4 linked regions of the Homo sapiens genome follow. The protein of the gene in region 4 interacts with the protein of the main gene of each other region in a biochemical or structural test. Each region holds a gene or a part of one and is shown on either strand. Other genes may lie near its edges.

Region 1 (3,500 bases), about 27 Mb from region 4:
GGTCCAGGGTCTGGGAGGAGGTTAAATGCAGGGAATCCGTCCCCAGGCTGGGCAGGGAAGGACTCCCACCCTTGGTGCCTGCACGTATAAGGGGAGGTGGGGTCAGTCTGGCACCCTGGCTGCTAGGTGGTCTGTGGCCAGCAAACCGTGCCCTGAAGCTTCTAGTTGGGAGGGGCAGAGGCCTTGCCCTGCAAAGCCCCAGGCTGAGGGGCTGGGGTTGGGGTGGGGTTTACCAGGACCTGGTTCCTGTAAGCCGAGGTCTCCTTCCCTGGCTCTTCCAGCCTCAAGCCAGCAGTAGCAGGGCAGCCTGATAGAGTAGGGCACCCCAGGGGTGAGGGGAGACCAGGAAGGCAGACACCCCTGTCTCCTGACAGCCTCGTAACCATGCAGGAGACTCACTGTGACTTGTCCCACACCCTCCCCAGTGTCTCCTCGGTTGGGGCTGGGGGCTTCAGGGATCAGGGAGAGGCTGGGTGCCAGCAGCGTGCCTGGTGGCACCTGGGACAGGGCCTTGCTGGGGGTGGGTGCTGTGGGTGTGCTCGCCAGGCCGAGGCATTGGGAAGGAACGAGGTGGGGAGCTCTCTGGAGAGGCACACGGGTGGGTACCAGCTGGAGGTGTTGCCTGAGCAGCTGGCAAGGCTGGGGCCTTCAGATTAGGCCATAGGTGAGTGGCCTGGAGCGCCTGGCCAAGGAGCAGAGCTGGGCAGGGGCCAGGGGCTGTGCTGGGCCTCTGTCCGGGGCTTTTCTCCGGGGAACGGTTCCGGGGCAGTGGGCTCGAGACTCTGGCCCTGGGGATTGCATACTGGGGCAGATCGGACCATCCAGGAGCGAGTGGGAGGTGGGTGTGCCGGGGCTTCACACCGGTTTCCACTTCTCTGGCCTGTGTTGACACAGGCCACCCTCCCCACCAGGCTGGTCCCGAGCCCCCTCCTGGCCCCCAGGCCTGGAAGACAGCTTCCTTGCTGCCTGGCCAGGCCCCCTTGTGGTTGCCAGGGCCTCGATGCTGGAATGTCAGAGGCCCCCCACTGGCCCCTCAGCCTCCTCCTGCTTTGCACAGGCTGGGCCAGAGCCTGCCACGGAGCCCCAGCGGCTACACACTCCACTCACTCACACCTCTCAGGGCCCCGCACGTTCCCACAGCCCTCAGGGTGTACGTGCTGTAGGTGTGGCTGTGCCCCAGGTATGTGTTCCCCAGGTGTGCTTGTGCCCCAGGTGTGGCTGTGCCCCAGGTGTGCGTGTGCCCCAGGTGTTCGTGTGCCCCAGATGTGGCTAGGTGTCTAGATGTGTTCTAGATGTCTGTGTATTCCAGTGTGGCTGTGTCCCAGGTGTGCGTGTGCCCCAGGTGTGTGCCTCAGGTGTGCGTGTGCCCCAGGTGTGGCTTTGCCTCCAGTGTGTGTGTGCCCCAGATGTATGTGTGCCCCAGGTGTGGCTGTGCCCCAGGTGTGCCTGTGCCCCAGGTGTGGCTGTGCCCCAGGTGTGCCTGTGCCCCAGGTGTGGGTGTGCCCCAGGTGTGGGTGTGCTCCAGGTGGCTGTATTTCCCAGGTACTCAGGGTGAGGTTGGGAAAAAAGCAGGACATTTCTACACTAGGTGGGACAAGCAGGTTTCTGGGGTGCCCCCCTCATGCCAGCCCCTCTGTGGGATCTCCATACCCCTCATCCTCTGAGGCCTGGCGCACGGCGGGGCTCAGAGACTGAAGGAAGGACTGTAGGAGTGGACGATGGTGGGGGTTTGACCTGACGCCGGGCCAGATGCCCTGTGTGGCTGCCTCAGCCTGGAGTAGAGTGTCTGAGCTGGAACAGGGGTCCTAGCCCCACTCTGTGAGGCGAGAAACTGAGGCTTGGAGAGAGGAAGAGATGGGGCTTCCCAGGACCTGGTGGGTGGTATGCAAGGGGAGCTGGCTGGTGCAGCGGGGGCTGTGGTGAGGGCCCTGGGAGGGGCAGGGGGATGCACGCAGACAGAGGCTCTGCCTGCCCGCAGAGTGCCAGCTGATGAAGACGGAGCGGCCCCGGCCCAACACCTTCATCATCCGCTGCCTGCAGTGGACCACTGTCATCGAACGCACCTTCCATGTGGAGACTCCTGAGGAGCGGTACGTGGGCTGTGGCGGCCAGGCCAGGCACTTGGGCAGCCCCAGCGCTTAGGAGGGACACGGGGATGGCGGGGTGCTGGCACCTCTGCCTGTAGCCATCCTCACTCCCCAGTGCTCCCAGGCCCTCCTCAGAGCCCAGTTTGGAAACTGGCCCAGTCCTGCCTGTGGGGTTTGGGTGGGGAAACTGAGGCTGGAGATAAAAACTGGCTAGGGACCGGGTGCAGTGGCTCACGTCTATAATCTCGGCACTTTGGGAGGCCGAGGTGCGCAGATCACTTGAGACCAGGAGTTTGAGACTAGCCTGCCAACATGGTGAAACCCCCGTCTCTACTAAAAATATAAAACTTAGCTGGGTGTGGTGGTGCACACCTGTAATCCCGGCTACTTGGGAGGCTGAGGCACAAGAATCGCTTGAACCCGAGAGGCAGAGGCTGCAGGAGCCGAGATTTTACCACTGCACTCCAGCCAGGGCGATAGAGCAAGACTCCGTCTCAAAAAAAGAAAAACCCGGTGGAGAGGGCCAGTCCTCCTTGGGGGGCGGAGTCCTGCTTGGGAGGCGGAGTCCTGCTTGGGGGGGGCGGAGTCCTGCTGGGGGGCGGAGTCCTGCTGGGGGTTGGAGTCCGGTTGTGGGGACAGAGTCCTGCTGGGGGGCTAAGCCTGGGTGTCCCCCACGTCCAAGAGGGCTTCGTGACCCTGAGTGTATGTGGCCAGACCAGGTCAAGTGGTGGCCTCCTCAGGGCTGTCTCTGGGAACCCCGACAGCTGTGGAACCACGCTTGTGAGGCTGGCGGGTGGGTGAAAGACGTGGGGTGGAGCTCCTGATCTGGTACAGGCCTGCAGCCTCACCTGACCTCCTGCAGGGAGGAGTGGACAACCGCCATCCAGACTGTGGCTGACGGCCTCAAGAAGCAGGAGGAGGAGGAGATGGACTTCCGGTCGGGCTCACCCAGTGACAACTCAGGGGCTGAAGAGATGGAGGTGTCCCTGGCCAAGCCCAAGCACCGCGTGGTGAGGCCTGTCCCCACTTCTGCCTGTGCCTGGGGCTGCCTTGGACTGTGGAGGGCTGGGTGGGTCATGGGGTCCCAGCTCGGCCCAGGAGACACTCAGCACTCCACGGCATCTCCACCTAGGCCGGTTTTCCATGTAGGGCGCAGCTGCTTCCCAGGTGGGTCCTCTTCCCCATGTCAGAGGAAAACTGGGGTTGCTGAGCCCTGCCAGGCTTGGGCAATGTTACCCCACCCTTCCCTGAACCCCATGCTCTGAGCTGGGGCCGCAGCCATGTGTTCCCTGTAAGCCTGGACTCCCCGCTGAGCCCAGTAGGCCACCAGGTGTGAAGTGGACGCCTCTCCTGGCTCTGCCTCCGACTCTGGGGCCCCTCATGCCACCCCACGCATGCCGACCAGCTGGGCAC
Region 2 (3,500 bases), on a different chromosome or scaffold from region 4:
AACTGCTTGAACCCAGGAGGCAGAAGCTGCTGTGAGCCGAGATCACGCCACTGCACTCCAACCTGGGCGACAGAGCCAGACTCCATCTCAAAAATAATAAATAAATTAAAAATACCTATTTGTAATATGTGAGGAATGAGACATCAAAGTTCTGCTATGGAAAGGAAAAAAGTAGTTCCTGGAGTTCATAAATGGTTTTTCCTTCTTAGGTATCAAACACCTTGCCTATAAATGTCTGACACCAAGCTGTCTCCCACATACTCATTGCTCAGGGAAACCGTAAGATATTTGAGATCTTCTGTAATCAGCTGTAGTACTATAAAACTTTCTGAATAAACCTGCTAGTCCTGTGGCCTGTGGCTACCAAATCATGTGCCAAGATGTATCAGGGCCCCATGGAGGAACTCACAACTACCTTGGGATATTTTAAATTTCAGAGTAATTCAGTGATACTCAACATAAGCCAAGACACTAAGCAAACTATTAGTTTCAGGTTGTTCAGTTTCAATATGAGATTGTACTGCAAACCCCTCCATTAAGTTTCATCTTCTAAAAACTGAATTTCTGGTGGTTGCTATAACTCAAAAAAACACAGGTACCCACCCCACCAAAAAAAAATAATAATAATAATGGGGAACAAGGAGTGAGATGATAGAAGTCATTTCAAAGTTTGAGAAGTTATATAGTATCCAAAAGCCATACACATTCCATTGATAGGTATGGTTATATAAGAAACTATATATATTTTTCTTTCCAATAATGTAAATTCGTTTTTCCAATAGCTACTAGGCTGCTAAGACAATATAGTTATGTTGCTTGGATACAGCTATGTCATCAAAGCAACTGCTAGTTACTCCTTTTGGCTTAAGAGCACAACAAAACTCCTCAGACACCAAGGGCACTATATACCAGGAAGGCTTGTGAACCTCTGTCCTAGCGAGTTATTTTATGTGGTAGTTTCCACTCTAAGATACAAAGGTGAAAGCTGTTCAAGGTAATGTTTTATGGAAAATGTAGCACTTTTTTTTTTTTTTTTGGGTGGTGCGGAGAAGGAGTCTCACTCTGTCGCCCAGGCTAGAGTGCAGTGGCGCTATCTGGCTTACTGCAACCTCTGCCTTTCATGTTCAAGCAATTCTCCCGCCTCAGCCATCCTAGTAGCTGGGATCACAGGTGTGCACCACCATGCCCAGCTAATTTTTACATTTTTAGTAGAGACGGGATTTCACCACGGTGGTTGGCCAGGCTGGTCTTGAACTCCTGACATCAGGTGACCTGCTCACCTCAGCCTCCCAAAGTGCTGAGATTACTGCCATAAGCCACCGCACTTAGCCAGCACTATTTTTTTTTTTTTTTTTTTTTTTTTTGAGTCGGAATCTCACTCTCTCACCCAGGCTGCAGTGCAGTGGCACGATCTCAGCTCACTGCAACCTCCACCACCGGGTTCAAGGATTCTTGTGCTTCAGCCTCCCAAGTAGCTGGGACTATAGGAGCGCGCCACCATGCCTGTCTAATTTTTGTATTTTTAGTAGCGATGGGGTTTCACCATGTTGTCCAGGCTGACTTCAAGTGATTTACCTGCCTTGGCCTCCCAAAGTGCTGGGATTATAGGCATGAACCACCACGCATACCCACTTAGCACTTTTCTATCAAGCAACTCTTGTGGCTTTCCACATTCCGTCTTTTGAGCACTCTTTTTTTAAAAAAATTACTTTCTTGCTTTGGTTTTAGACCCTGAAGCATTCTTCTTTTAACATCCCCAGGAGATAAAAGAATTTTTCTTTGTTCAAGAAAGACTCAAGGTCAAATATCACTCTCTCACTGCCTCCATAACAAATTTTAGACTCTCAGGACTCCATTATCATGTTGTCAAGTATGCAGAAGCTAGTTTAGATTATATAATAAAACAAACTGGAAGTACAGAGACATGGTTAGTTACTTTGCAATAAAAGGACCGCTGGAGAAATTATTGTCCCTTTTTGTGAAGTGAAAAAAAATAAGCCTTCTGTCAGAAATGCTGGGTTCCAATCCTATTTTGGCTTTTTTTTTTTTTTTGGGGGGGGAGACACAGCCTCTCTCTGTTGCCCAGGCTGTAGTGCAGTGGCGTGATCTCGGCTTACCGCAACCTCCACCTCCACCTCCCCCTCCCCCTCCCCCTCCCAGCCTCCCAAATAGCTGGTATTACAGGCATACGCCACCTCGCCTGGCTAATTTTGTATTTTTAGTAGAGACGGGGTTTCTCCACGTTGGTCAGACTGGTCTCAAACTCCCAGCCCCAGGTGATCCATCAGCCTTGGCCTCACAAAGTGCTGGGATCATGGGCTTGAGTCACTGCGCCTGGTCTGCAGTTTTTGTGTTGTGTTTTGAGACGGAGTTTCACGCTGTTGTCCAGGCTGGAGTGCAATGGCGTGGTCTGGGCTCACTGCAACCTCCACCTCCTTATTTCAAGCGATTCTCCTGCTGCAGCATCCTGAGTAGCTGGGATTACAGGTGCCCATCACCACACCCAGCTAATTTTTTGTATTTTTAGTAGAGATGGGGTTTCATAATGTTTGCCAGGCTGGTCTCTGAACTCCTGACCTTAGGTGATGCACCCATCTCAGCCTCCCAAAGTGCTGGAGATTACAGGCGTGAGCCACCGCACTCGGCCCTGTTTGTAGTTTTAATGTGTTAGCCAACTTGTATAAAGGGTCAGCCAGTAAATATTCAGCTTTGCAGGCCACAAATATCTCTTATCTCATTCACATTTTTTTTTTTTTTTTTTTTGGTCTCATTCTGTTGCCTAGGCTAGAGTGCAGTAGTGTGATCTTGGCTCACTGCAACTTCCGCCTCCTGTGTTTTTTTAAAAATATACATTTAAAAAATGTAGGAATCATTTTTGGTTCATGGCCTAACCACAGGTTTTGATAATTTAAATTTGTTTTATCTGGGACATGATCATATAGCTTGCTAAGGCTTTTTTTCTTTTTCTTTTTCTTTTTCTTTTTTGAGACAGAGTCTTGCTCTGTCACCCAGACTAGAGTGCAGTGGCGTGATCTTGGCTCGCTGCAACCTCTACCTCCTGGGTTCAACTGATTGGCCTGGCTCAGTCTCCCAAATAGCTGGGACTACAGGTACGTGCCACCACGCCCAGCTAATTTTTGCAATTTTAGTAGAGACGGGGTTTTACTATATTGGCCAGGCTGGTCTCGAACTCCTGACCTCGTGATCCGCCTGCCTCTGCCTCCCAAAGTGCTGGGATTACAGGTGTGAACCAGCACTTTTTTTTTTTTTTTTTTTTTTTGAGACCGAGTTTCACTCTTGTTGCCCAGGCTGGAGTGCAATGGCCTGATCTCGGCTCACCGTAACCTCCACTTCCCAGGTTCAAGCGATTCTCCTGACTCAGCCTCCTGAGTAGCTGAGATTACAGGCATGCACCACCACGCCTGGCGAATTTTTTTTTTTTTTTTTTTTTTTTTTTTTGAGATGGAGTCTTGCTCTGTTGCCCAGGCTGGGGTGCGGTG
Region 3 (3,803 bases), about 25 Mb from region 4:
TTACATAGTACCAGTTTTGTCCTTGGAATGACTCAGTGCATTTGGTTTATATTTTTTTCAGACTTCATTAGAGGGGTGGTAGACTCGGAGGATCTCCCTCTAAACATATCCCGTGAGATGTTGCAACAAAGCAAAATTTTGAAAGTTATCAGGAAGAATTTGGTCAAAAAATGCTTAGAACTCTTTACTGAACTGGCGGAAGATAAAGAGAACTACAAGAAATTCTATGAGCAGTTCTCTAAAAACATAAAGGTTGGTGTAAATAACCATTAGTTTTCCAATTGGCCTCTTTAGTTTTTTTTTTTTTTTTTTAATTCAGAAAGTCTTTGTAAAGAACATACTTTGTTTCAGCTTGGAATACACGAAGACTCTCAAAATCGGAAGAAGCTTTCAGAGCTGTTAAGGTACTACACATCTGCCTCTGGTGATGAGATGGTTTCTCTCAAGGACTACTGCACCAGAATGAAGGAGAACCAGAAACATATCTATTATATCACAGGTAAGAGAACACTATGTTACAGTCATACACGTCGTTCTTACAATCTTGTAGGCTCTGTGGGTGTGTTTTCTACTCAGGTAGCACTGTTACAACTGGTATTGATCTAGGCAAGATAATTAACATGAACTAGGTCATTTTCTGTCTTAGGTTCTGCCTAGGTATCTGGCTAGCAAGAAAAGTCAGAGCTAGATGAAACCATTCTTAACTGTTAAAAGGTCTAAAAGTAACTTTGTAATACCTCAGGTGAGACCAAGGACCAGGTAGCTAACTCAGCCTTTGTGGAACGTCTTCGGAAACATGGCTTAGAAGTGATCTATATGATTGAGCCCATTGATGAGTACTGTGTCCAACAGCTGAAGGAATTTGAGGGGAAGACTTTAGTGTCAGTCACCAAAGAAGGCCTGGAACTTCCAGAGGATGAAGAAGAGAAAAAGAAGCAGGAAGAGAAAAAAACAAAGTTTGAGAACCTCTGCAAAATCATGAAAGACATATTGGAGAAAAAAGTTGAAAAGGTATGTGAATACAGCATTTCCTGATCATTGATACTTCTAAGGTGCTTTCAAGCTTAGTCATACATAGCCCATTTTCGCATGTTTTCAACTTAAAACAGAAAACTATGTTGTGTGTGGCTGGGCGCGGTGGCTCACGCCTGCAATCCCAGCACTTTGGGAGGCTGAGGCAGCGGATCACAAGGTCAGGAGATCGAGACCATCCTGGCTAACACGGTGAAACTCAGTCTCTACTAAAAATAGAAAAAAATAAACCAGGCGTGGTGGCACGGCCTGTAATCCTAGCCACTTGGGAGGCTGAGGCAGGAGAATCGCCTGAACCCAGGAGGCGGAGGTTGCAGTGAGCCAAGATCGCACCACTGCACTCCAGCCTGGGTGATGGAGCGAGACTCTATCTCAAAAAAAAAATTGTGCATGTAAAACATGAAATTATAACCTGTGCTCTTTGGATACCTAATGCGACATTTAAGTTGTATTTGACAGTAGATAGTATTTTGGATCTATTGAAATTTGGGTTCTACAGATTTCATTTCACAATGAAAGTTTAGGAATTAATCTTTCTAGGTTCCTAGTCATCACTTTTTGATTACAGGTGGTTGTGTCAAACCGATTGGTGACATCTCCATGCTGTATTGTCACAAGCACATATGGCTGGACAGCAAACATGGAGAGAATCATGAAAGCTCAAGCCCTAAGAGACAACTCAACAATGGGTTACATGGCAGCAAAGAAACACCTGGAGATAAACCCTGACCATTCCATTATTGAGACCTTAAGGCAAAAGGCAGAGGCTGATAAGAACGACAAGTCTGTGAAGGATCTGGTCATCTTGCTTTATGAAACTGCGCTCCTGTCTTCTGGCTTCAGTCTGGAAGATCCCCAGACACATGCTAACAGGATCTACAGGATGATCAAACTTGGTCTGGGTAAGCCTTATACTATGTAATGTTAAAAAGAAAATAAACACACGTGACATTGAAGAAAATGGTGAACTTTCAGTTATCCAAACTTGGAGCACCTTGTCCTGCTTGCTGCTTGGAGGTATTAAAGTATGTTTTTTTTAGGGATAAGTAAGGTCTTACAAGAGCAAAGAAATGAAATTGAGACTCATATGTCCTGTAATACTGTCTTGAAAGCAGATAGAAACCAAGAGTATTACCCTAATAGCTGGCTTTAAGAAATCTTTGTAATATGAGGATTTTATTTTGGAAACAGGTATTGATGAAGATGACCCTACTGCTGATGATACCAGTGCTGCTGTAACTGAAGAAATGCCACCCCTTGAAGGAGATGACGACACATCACGCATGGAAGAAGTAGACTAATCTCTGGCTGAGGGATGACTTACCTGTTCAGTACTCTACAATTCCTCTGATAATATATTTTCAAGGATGTTTTTCTTTATTTTTGTTAATATTAAAAAGTCTGTATGGCATGACAACTACTTTAAGGGGAAGATAAGATTTCTGTCTACTAAGTGATGCTGTGATACCTTAGGCACTAAAGCAGAGCTAGTAATGCTTTTTGAGTTTCATGTTGGTTTATTTTCACAGATTGGGGTAACGTGCACTGTAAGACGTATGTAACATGATGTTAACTTTGTGGTCTAAAGTGTTTAGCTGTCAAGCCGGATGCCTAAGTAGACCAAATCTTGTTATTGAAGTGTTCTGAGCTGTATCTTGATGTTTAGAAAAGTATTCGTTACATCTTGTAGGATCTACTTTTTGAACTTTTCATTCCCTGTAGTTGACAATTCTGCATGTACTAGTCCTCTAGAAATAGGTTAAACTGAAGCAACTTGATGGAAGGATCTCTCCACAGGGCTTGTTTTCCAAAGAAAAGTATTGTTTGGAGGAGCAAAGTTAAAAGCCTACCTAAGCATATCGTAAAGCTGTTCAAAAATAACTCAGACCCAGTCTTGTGGATGGAAATGTAGTGCTCGAGTCACATTCTGCTTAAAGTTGTAACAAATACAGATGAGTTAAAAGATATTGTGTGACAGTGTCTTATTTAGGGGGAAAGGGGAGTATCTGGATGACAGTTAGTGCCAAAATGTAAAACATGAGGCGCTAGCAGGAGATGGTTAAACACTAGCTGCTCCAAGGGTTGACATGGTCTTCCCAGCATGTACTCAGCAGGTGTGGGGTGGAGCACACGTAGGCACAGAAAACAGGAATGCAGACAACATGCATCCCCTGCGTCCATGAGTTACATGTGTTCTCTTAGTGTCCACGTTGTTTTGATGTTATTCATGGAATACCTTCTGTGTTAAATACAGTCACTTAATTCCTTGGCCTTACAGTGTCTCAAAGTTCTTTACAAATCTACTTAAAGCCATCCTGGCTGAGGCAGGAGAATCGCTTGAACCTGGGAGGCGGAGGTTGCGGTGGGCTGGGATTGCACCATTGCGCTGCAGCCTGAGCAGCAAGAGCGAAACTCCATCTCAAAAAAAAGATGAAAAAATCAGCCCAATAGGTAAGAGTCCCTCTGGGGACTGGGGGTGGTAATGGCTAAATAAAAGTCTTCACTTCTGAAATTTGGTGGTTCTAGAGACAAAACTTGGTTAGATAGCATATAGGATTTGCATTCTGAGCCTAACGCCATATATAAAAATGATAGGAAATGCCTGGGACTTGGATATGTGACAGTGTCTAAGGGGGCAGTGCACAGGCAGGGAGAGACCTTGTCTCAGTCTCGTGCTAAGCAGGTATTGAATGCTTGGTAAATGGCAATCACGTTTAGTCCTTTAAATTCTCTGAAAAGTTCTTAATCCCCTTCGATAATATACAGGAGGA
Region 4 (3,500 bases):
AGGTTGCAGTGAGCTGGGATCGCACCGTTGCACTCCAGCCTGGGCAACAGAGTGAGACTCCATCTCAAAAAAAATAAAAAATAGGTGAATACTACAATAAATATGGTGCTTTACCATGAAAAAGACCTGAAGTTTATTTGTGAAAGTGGGCATCAAAGCCAGGCGCGGCGGCTCACGCCTGTAATCTCAGCACTTTGGGAGACTGAGGCAGGTGGATCACGAGGTCAGGAATTGGAGACACACCTGGCCAACATGGTGAAACCCCATCTCTACTAAAAAATACAAAAATTAGCCGTGTGTAGTGGCACGCACCTGTAATCCCAGCTACTTGGGAGGCTGAAGCAGAAGAATTGCTTGAACCTGGGAGGTGGAGGTTGCAATGAGCCAAGATCATGCCACTGCAATCCAGCCTGAGCGACAGAGCAAGACTCTGTCTTGCGGGGGGAAAAGGTGGGCATCAGAAGGGTTGCAGCTTGAGGACTACTATGGAATGGTAGAAGGAGAGTCATCCACAATCAGAGGGAACATTACACTCGTTGAGGATGGGTATGGCTCACAACACACGCTGTAAACTGAGGTCATTGGCAGATAGGTGTTTGAGATGTGTGTGTTTTATGTATCCTGTGTAGCTGGGTGAGGCTTTCCGTATTCACCTAGTGTTTCTCATGGATGGAGTCACATATAAGCAAACATGAACTTCTCATTATAATCAAATTGTTCCCTAATATTTCAGTTGCACTGAAATAAATTGATATTTTCAAAACAAGTATTCTAGCAGAACTACTGGCTTTTGACCCAAGTTCTCATGGTATAACTCATGCTAGTACCAAATCTGTAGCTCTTTGTCTCACATTGTAATAACATAGTTGGTTTCCAGTAACCTGGTGAGGAAAGACATTTCTTTTGGGGGTGCGGGTGTTGATTGCATCTGGCATGTGGCATTCTCAGAATAAAGAGGATCAGTTCAGCCATCCAAAAGCAGCAGAAGTGAGGTAGCAGTTAGGACCCTGGAGCAGAGACCTTTCCTGCCAAGGAGTGGACTAATGACATTGCATTGGTTTTGACAGGTACTTCTAAGTCAGGAGTACAATACAAAGGACATGTGGAGATCCCCAATTTGTCTGATGAAAACAGCGTGGATGAAGTGGAGGTTTGTGCTTCATAACTCCTAATCCGAGTCCTCTATATCCTCTTATTCTCAGATGAGAAAAGTGACCTGTCATTCAGGATTCATAGCCCAGGCTTGGTCCAAGCATTCAGAACCCTAGCCTGCAGATAATTTTCTAGGCATATGGTGCCATTGGAAACTTCTAGAGCAATTTGCACTTCTTTAATTTCTTCACTTTAGCTAGTGACATGGGTTCTAACTAACATTAGCCACTTGACAGAGAGGACTCAAGAAGGAACACTAATGGGGATTGTACGAATACCGCAGTACTCATGCATTTCCTTTGGAAATGTCAGCAGTCACCTGATTGCTCAGCCCCCACATTCCATAATGAGGGTGCCCCTCAAGTTATTTACCACCTACTTCTCATCTTTCACCCAGATTAGTGTGAGCCTTGCCAAAGATGAGCCTGACACAAATCTCGTGGCCTTAATGAAGGAAGAAGGGGTGAAACTTCTAAGAGAAGCAATGGGAATTTACATCAGCACCCTCAAAACAGGTATCCCTTGAGTAGTTCTGTATGCCTTAAGGAGGTAGTTTCCACCTGTTAGACTCTGGTTAAGGGCCTGGACAGTCCTTTCTTTGGCAAATGGGTAAAGATTTGGGGGGAGGGGGCTTATTTCATCTTAAAGTCAGTCCATAAGCTCGGAGTAAGGGAAAGATCTGGAGCTGTGTTGCCTAATAATGATGGTTGAGCATTTTAGATGTGGCTAGACCAAACTGAAATGTACTGTGATGGCCTGGCGCGGTGGCTCACACTTGTAATCCCAGCACTGTTGGATGCTGAGGTGGGCTGATTGCCTGAGCTCAGGAATTTGAGACCAGCCTGGGCAACATGGCGAAACCCTGTCTCTACAAAAAATACAAAAATTAGCTGGATGCGGTGGCCCATGCCTGTAATCCCAGCTACTCGGGAGGCTGAGGTGGGAGAGTGGCTTGAGCCCAGGAGGCAGGGAGGTTGCATTGAGCTGAGATCATGCCACTGCACTCCAGCCTGGATGACCAAAAAACACAAGAGATGTGCTGTGAGTATAAATTACACTACGGGCTGGGCACAGTGGCTCACACCTATAATCCCAGCCCTTTGGGAAGCCGAGGTGGGCGGATCACCTGAGGTCGGGAGTTCGAGACCAGCCTGACCAATAGAGAAACCCCATCTCTACTAAAAATACAAAATTAGCCGGGCATGGTGGTGCATGCTTGTAATCCCAGCTACTCAAGAGGCTGAGGCAGGAGAATTGCTTGAACCCAGGAGGTAAAGGTTGCGGTGAGCCAAGAACGCGCCATTGCACTCCAGCCTGGGTGACAGAGGGAGACTCCATCTCAAAAAAAAAAAAAACAAAAAAAAAACTGTATTTGAGGCTCACATTATATTTCTAATGGACAGCGCTAATCTAAAGACTTGGCATCTCTGGACTCATTACTTGAATACAGTCTGGACTATCTTTGATATGCACTCTCCAGGGATATTTAGATGCTTAGAATAGAAGTCAGCTCAGCTTTCCCCTGGGATTCCATTTCTGCCAGTGTATTCTGATCTTGGTGTTGGAATATGTATAATAACCATCAAAGAAGGTGATGGAAGGTGATAGACACCTTTTTGGGGAGGACCAGTACACCAGTGCCATAACTAGTTGTGGCTTTTCTGCAGAGGTAAGGCAGAGTGGAGGAAAGGCACTAACCATGCATCCATAGGTGCTGGGTAGATTACCCACTCTTGAAGTCATCAAAGTGCCACGGCGTTCACGCCATCCTTCCATAGTAGACCTCACATGCACTTAATATGTTATAATGTTTCCAGTTGAGTCAGGATAAGCTTTTAAAAATAATCCCAGTGGCCAGGTGCAGTGGCTCACACCTGTAATCCCAGCACTTTTGGAGGCCGAGGCTAGTAGATCACAAGGTCAGGAGATCAAGACCATCCTGGCCAACATGGTGAAACCCCGTCTCTACTAAAAATACAAAAATTAGCTGGGCATGGTGGTGCACGCCTATAATCCGAGCTACTCAGGAGGCTGAGGCAGGAGAATAGCTTGAACCAGGGAGTCAGAGGTTGCAGTGAGTTGGAGTGCAGGCTGCACTCCAGCCTGGTGACAGAGCAAGACTCCATCTCAAAAAAAAAATAATAATAATCCCAGTGAACATACTGTATTCTATAGCATATACCCAGGTACCAGTCTGGCATAGGCCAAAAGTAAAGATGTAAAAATAGCCTCTTCCTTTTCTGGTCATAACCTCATTCTGTGGTAGGATGGCTGTGTTTGTCAAGCTGTAATGAAACTCCAGATCTCAGCTACTAAGAAGTAACTTCCATGAGCTGGAATTTTATCTT

The links. Proteins that work in one complex are often made in the same cells at the same time.
Region 1: the proteins of AHSA1 (region 4) and AKT1 form a complex in vitro, tested with the Homo sapiens proteins (one study listed by BioGRID).
Region 2: the proteins of AHSA1 (region 4) and PTGES3 form a complex in vitro, tested with the Homo sapiens proteins (one study listed by BioGRID).
Region 3: the proteins of AHSA1 (region 4) and HSP90AA1 form a complex in vitro, tested with the Homo sapiens proteins (4 studies listed by BioGRID).

Annotation. Positions count from the first base shown.
Region 1 is NC_000014.9:104,775,249-104,778,748, reverse strand, and holds part of AKT1 (RAC-alpha serine/threonine-protein kinase), read left to right. Parts: intron 1-1,978; coding exon 1,979-2,090; intron 2,091-2,949; coding exon 2,950-3,097; intron 3,098-3,500. UniProt on the Homo sapiens protein: AKT1 is one of 3 closely related serine/threonine-protein kinases (AKT1, AKT2 and AKT3) called the AKT kinase, and which regulate many processes including metabolism, proliferation, cell survival, growth and angiogenesis.
Region 2 is NC_000012.12:56,674,785-56,678,284, reverse strand, and holds part of PTGES3 (prostaglandin E synthase 3), read left to right. Parts: intron 1-3,500. UniProt on the Homo sapiens protein: Cytosolic prostaglandin synthase that catalyzes the oxidoreduction of prostaglandin endoperoxide H2 (PGH2) to prostaglandin E2 (PGE2).
Region 3 is NC_000014.9:102,080,242-102,084,044, reverse strand, and holds the end of HSP90AA1 (heat shock protein HSP 90-alpha), read left to right. Parts: intron 1-61; coding exon 62-252; intron 253-351; coding exon 352-499; intron 500-742; coding exon 743-1,011; intron 1,012-1,600; coding exon 1,601-1,934; intron 1,935-2,223; coding exon 2,224-2,333; 3' UTR 2,334-3,303; downstream 3,304-3,803. UniProt on the Homo sapiens protein: Molecular chaperone that promotes the maturation, structural maintenance and proper regulation of specific target proteins involved for instance in cell cycle control and signal transduction.
Region 4 is NC_000014.9:77,461,093-77,464,592, forward strand, and holds part of AHSA1 (activator of 90 kDa heat shock protein ATPase homolog 1), read left to right. Parts: intron 1-1,067; coding exon 1,068-1,150; intron 1,151-1,549; coding exon 1,550-1,667; intron 1,668-3,500. UniProt on the Homo sapiens protein: Acts as a co-chaperone of HSP90AA1. Activates the ATPase activity of HSP90AA1 leading to increase in its chaperone activity.